2 separate regions of the Homo sapiens genome follow, and region 2 is linked to region 1. The links come from fine-mapping of genetic effects on plasma protein levels. A gene starts in region 1. The other region holds a variant in brackets. All regions are shown on one strand. Distances are from middle to middle. Region 1 holds the start of CASS4 (Cas scaffold protein family member 4). Region 2 has its middle 200 kb from the start of BMP7-AS1.

Region 1 (2,916 bases):
CACATAATGAAGTTTAGGGGTGGAGCGTCATTGTATTGGCCATTTATTTTCAAAGAGTTTAACAACAACAATAAAAATGAAGTGTGTTCCAGTGTCTAAATATACACAAATAAATGCACACAAATATGACAAAGTACCAGAAACCAATGATCTAGGTGAAGGATATGCAGGGATTTACTGAATAACCCCCACGCTTCCCATATTTTTCCAATGGTTTGAAATTTTTCAAAGTAAGTAGTTGGGGACAAAATTCTAGGGTAGCTAAGATATTTACATATAATCTATACAAGAGAGACTGTCATGGGTTACTCAGTCACAAATTCCACTAGTGACTTTTTTTTTTTTTTTTTTTTTTTTTTTGAGACAGAGTCTTGCTCTGTCACCCAGGCCGGAATGCAGTGGTATAATCTCAGCTCACTGCAACCTCTGCCTCCCAGGCTCAAGCGATTCTTGTGCCTCAGCCTCCCGAGTAGCTGGGATCACGGGCATGCGCCACCACGCTCAGCTAATTGTTGTATTTTTGGTAGATATGGGGTTTTTTCATGTTGATCAGGCTGGTCTCAAACTCCTGGCCTCAAGTGATCCACCTGCCTTGGCCTCCCAAAGTGCTGGGATTACAGGTGTGAGCCACCGCAGACAGCCACACTAGTCACTTTTATTATAATGAAAAATAAGCATTGATTTTTATAAGCAAGCTCCCCATTTACTGCTTGTTTCATTTCTTTTTTCCTGTTCTACTTAAAATTTAAAAAGGGCATAGCAAGATGAAAACACAACCTTGAGCTTCACTTTCTTTATGTCTGGGTAAATTTTTTTTTAATATGGTAGCCATTTTAACTTTTCTTTTCTTTTTTTTTTTTTTAAGATGGGGTCTCGCTATGTTGCCCAGGCTGGACTCAAACTTCTGGGCTGAATTAATCTTCTCACCTCAGCCTCTCCGGTAGCTGGAGTACAGGTATGTACCACCGTGCCTGGCTTCTTTCACCTTTCTAAATAGTGAATCTTTTTTGATTCATGACAGGCATGAAGTCTGTCTGAAAGCTCCAGCTTTGCTCACATAATGCACAAGTTAACATGAAAATAACATGTAAGTGCCCACTGTGGGCTCAGCACGGGAGGCTGCAGGCAAGGGTCTGGGCTCTGCTGTTGGGAGGTGAGCACAGAAACCAAATAGGACAGTTAGAGTGGCACTGAGTGTCTTTGGGGTCCAGAGAAAGAAGGAATTAGCGGGGGCTGAGGCAGACTCGCATCTTGCTTCAGGAGTTTGCTGGACGCAAAATGATGGACGGCGCTGTCAACCAAGTAAGCTGATTTCTACTACAAAGTCATTTTCACCCATCTTGGATGCAAACTGGTAAGGAGCTTTACAACACATCTATTTCCCACACTTAAACTTATGTTAAACTTTCCCATCTCCAACTCACACGTCACTGGTATTCAACCTTTATTAGAAAGTCACAACTAAAGCTGGTCAACACCCTTAATCATCACAGCTTGCTCCCCGCCAGAGCCCATTCAAACAGCCCCACATCACTCACCTTGGGCGCACAGTCCATGATGCCTGTTCCCTTCATGTCGGTGATGTGGAGCAGCTCCCCTGAGCTCTGCAGCTAGTATCTCCAGCTTCAGAGGCAGATTGTGCAATGTCACTGCATGCTTCTGGCTGGTTCTCAGAAACTGAATTCTATGGAGCTATCTGACAACACATGGGAAACGATCAAAAAGACTCTCCCAGCAGGCAAACTTTCTGGAAAGCACGATAAGAGTAAAATGAAAGCAGTGAAGCAGGGGAGGACCAGAAATACAAGCCACACTCACGTCTCAATGCCTGACGTCTCACTTTGTCTGTAAGTAGAGACTGTCACTCATTTGCTATGTGAAACCACAAAAGAAGAAGAAGAAGAAAAAAACACCACTCTTCTGCTTTATAGGGCGAAGTTCCTACTTCGAAGAGCTCAGTGTATGAACACACAGCATTCTTGTCCTTTGAACTCTGTGGAACAACTCCAACCGAACAGACCAAGCTCATTTCCCTGATGAGAGGCCACTAGGCCAAATTTCTGATAGCGGTCAGCATTTCTTCCTTCCTGCTCCCTAAAACTTGCCTTATGACAGCCAGGATAAAAGCAGTCAAACAGGCTGCCTTAAAGGACACAGTCTCCACTCTACCCACCCTGTCAGTTGTGCATTCACCCTGCTCGGAACCCCATGCTCATCTCCTGGTCTTTGCTCATGGTACCTAATGAATAACATCTTCTGGGTACTGGCTCTGCACTGAGGGCTATGCTGAGCCCCGCACCTGTATTCTCTCTCTTAAATCAAATAAACTTATCGTGTGTGTTGTACTTGAAACCCCTGCTAGCTCATGCAGTTTATCATCACTTGCCAACTCTTTTTACTTTTCCTAAATTCAGATCCAATCTCTAGAGAGGACCTACAGCATAGCAGACACTGAGCAAAATAAGTCTGCATTTTTTTTTTTTTTTGAGACGGAGTCTTTCTCTGTCACTCAGGTGGGAGCGCAGTGGCGCAATCTCGGCTCACTGCAACCTCCACCTCCCGGGTTCAAGTGATTCTCCTGCCTCAGCCTCCAGAGCAGCTGGGATTACAGGCACCCGCCACCACGCCTGGCTAATTTTTGTATTTTCAGTAGAGACAGGACTTCACCATGTTGGCCAGGCTGGTCTCAAACTCCTGACCTCAAGTGATCCACCCACCTCAGCCTCTCAAAATGCTGGGATTACAGGCGTGAGCCACAACGCCTGGCCCCGGCCTGCATTTTTATTTAGACAAAATGGTGCCCATTCTTCCAAGCCAGGCTCAAGTTCTATCCCCAACCAGCTGTGGGGGATAGCTTACCGCTATCTTCTTGTCAGACAGCATTTTTTAATTTTTTATTTTTAAATTTTCTTTTCT
Region 2 (2,916 bases), 600 kb before region 1:
GGCCCACTCTGTGATTTAGACACCACCCTCCCCAACATCCTGTCCCAAACCTAAATTAGGGGCCTCCTGTTCTCATCCCTCGTAGCATCTTACCCATGTACCTGTGTGTGTAGCATCTGTATTTTTTTGTGAGAGTTGCTGTAACAAATGACCACAACCCAGGTGGCTTAAAACAGCGGAAATTCATTCTCACGTTGTTCTGGAGGCGAGAAATCTGCAACCAGGTATCAGCAAGGCCACACTCCCTCCTGAGATTCTAGGAGGTAATCCTTTCCAGGCCTCTTCCCATTCCTGGTGACTCCTGGTGTCACTGGACTTGTAGCAGTGTCATTCCAATCTCTGCCTCCGTCCTCACATGGCTTTCTTCCCTGTGTCTTTCTGTGTGTCCTCTCCTTTTCTAGGAAGGACACCAGTCATTGGATTTAGAGCCCTTCCTAATCCAGTATGATCTCTTCTTAACTAACAACTTCTGTCAAAACCTATTTCCAAATAAGGTTGTTTCTGAGGTTCTGGATGGACATGAATATTGGGGACTCTGTTCAACCCACTACCTTAGTTTGAAGTTTGTCTCCCACAGAGATCATGGGCTGTATGTGGGCTGAACCATCTCTCTCTTGTTCACTGTTGTATCTCCAGGCCTTGGCACTGTGCCTGGCACATAGAAGCTGCTCAATAAACATAATGAAACCTAACCTAACGTAGCATACTATAAGAGTGAAATTGAACTCTAGACAAACAAATTAGTTCAGATTTCTCTGGTCAGGCCAACCTGGGTTCAAATCCCATCTCTTCCACTCAGCTGTGTGTTATGTCACTTAAATGTGCCTCTGAGTCTCTCTAAATTCTGCTCCATCTGCAAAGCAGAGATAATAATACTATCTACCACATTAAGTTATGGTGAGAACTCAGTGAGAAAGTGAGCATGATAAGCTTAGCCTAGTGCTAGCTCAGAAAGCCCTGGTGTTAGCTGCTAGGATTATCGTACACCAAGCATTGCAGAGAGTAGCTCATTGCTGGAAGATGCCCCAAAGAACACCATCCAGTGTCCTATGGACCATGAGTAAAGCTTGCTGCCACTTGTGTAAAAAGAAGGAAAAGTGACTATATGCACATATTTGCTGACATATCCCTAAAGCATCTTTGGAAAAGTATAAAAAACTGGTAATATTAATTGCCTGGGCGGGGCATGGTGCCTCACGCCTGTAATCTCGGCACTCTGGGAGACCAAAGTGGGTGGATTGCTTGAGCCCAGGAATTTGGGACCAGCCTGAGTAACATGGCGAAACCTCATCTCTACAAAAAATAGAAAAATTAGCTGGGCTTGGTGGCACGTGCCGTGGTCCCAGCTACCTGGGAGGCTGAGCTGAGAGGATCACTTGAGTCCAGGAGGTCGAGGCTGCAGTGGGTCATGATTGTGCCACTGCACTCCAGCCTGGGCGACAGAGC[G/A]AGACCCTGTCTCAAAAAATATAGAGAGACAGACAGATAGATAGATAGATAGATAGATAGATAGATAGATAGATAGATATAGATAGATAGATAGATAGATAGATAGATTTGCCTCTGGGGAGGGCAACCACATGGCTGGAGTGAACGGGGGAAAGGAGTTTTCTTTTTCTCTAGCACATTTGTACATCGACTAATATAAAAATTATCTATTTAAAAAGTAAATCCGTTTTTACAACACAAGGTGCCCTATCAATGAAAATGATTTGAAGATATTAGGAGTGGGGTCAAACCCAGCATTCGAGTTGAGGGTGAGGGGCGAACGTGAGAATTGCAAACAGGTAGAAGGAAAACGCAGAGGTGAAAGATTTCAGGTGCAGCTTTTGACATGAACTGCCGTTCCTTCGAAGCAGCAGTTAATTTCATGAGTAAACGAGCTGGGAGCAGAACTCGTTCGCTGGGTGAACACCGGCCAGGCGGCAGATTCTGCAGCAGCGCTCTCCTGCGGGAGGGGCAGGTGGAGGCGGGGCCTTCCTTGGAGATCTCTGATAGGGGATCCTTCCCTCAGCACCCGAGGGAAAGGTCTTGAGCGCTCTGTAGCCCCGGACTGCGCGGGCCGGTGGCTTGCTTGTCGAGGCAGGCACTTTCGGAAAATTGCTTTTGACATGTATTCCCTTGTTTAGGTCTTGGCCATCCCCCGCACTCTATGTGCTCAGTGACCTTTGACATGAACTTGCTAACAAAGGTTACACCAAATCAAAATGGCATTCCAGAAGATTCTTTTCAGCAGCAGGTACTCCCTGACCTAGATTAAGTTTTCTCAAATGTCAAAACCCTGAAAAAGATACCGAAATTGACCAGAATCACTTGGGCAAAAAATACATATTTTTTTTTTTTGTGACCAAAGGAATGAAATCGGGAAATAAAAACAAAGGAAAACATAGGAGAGAGTGCAAAATCAAAGAGAAACATTCACTTTTGTAAAAATGTTTAAATTTTTTTTGCCCTTACAAAAATAAATAAACATTATTATACATAGCAGTGTTGGATTAAAACTAAGCCATGTGCAATGGAGATTTTGCCATAACTTGGCAGACAGAGAGAGAGTGTGTGTGTTTTAGTAAGGGTGAGGAGAGTATTAACAAGATGATGATTTTATGAGTTAGTTTTTCACTCTCTCCAAAGTGAAAAAGAACTGAATTGGAACTTTTATTGATAAACAAAGGTTTTTCATAGATTACAGTCTCTTAAAGGGAGTCATATTAGAATAAGCTTAGAAAATGTTCACTATTTTAAACGCACAGCCACTTATTTTGAGCTTTAAAAATTGCTTTCACATTTTTACTGTTACATTTCATGTTATTTGAATGGCAGAGAATTACTTAGCATAGCTAAAAATACGTTTGTATATACATACACAGGAAAGAAAGGAGAACAATCAAGAATGGAAAAAAATTAAAATTCTCACAGAGA

The links. PIP is the chance, under the fine-mapping model, that this variant and not a neighbour inherited with it causes the effect. Sun 2018 read protein levels with aptamers (SomaScan).
Region 2: its variant is fine-mapped to the plasma level of the CASS4 protein (Sun 2018, PIP 0.95).

What each region holds. Positions count from the first base shown.
Region 1 is chr20:56,411,117-56,414,032 of GRCh38, reverse strand. CASS4 (Cas scaffold protein family member 4) reads right to left here and starts at 1,773. Exons shown (of 6, transcript NM_020356.4): 1 at 1,539-1,773. The coding sequence starts at 1,574.
Region 2 is chr20:57,013,025-57,015,940 of GRCh38, reverse strand. No RefSeq gene overlaps it. Among named protein-coding and RNA genes, the nearest start is that of BMP7-AS1, 200 kb to the left of the region's middle. RefSeq lists a silencer at 1,092-1,255. The variant G/A (reference allele first, on the strand shown) is at 1,447.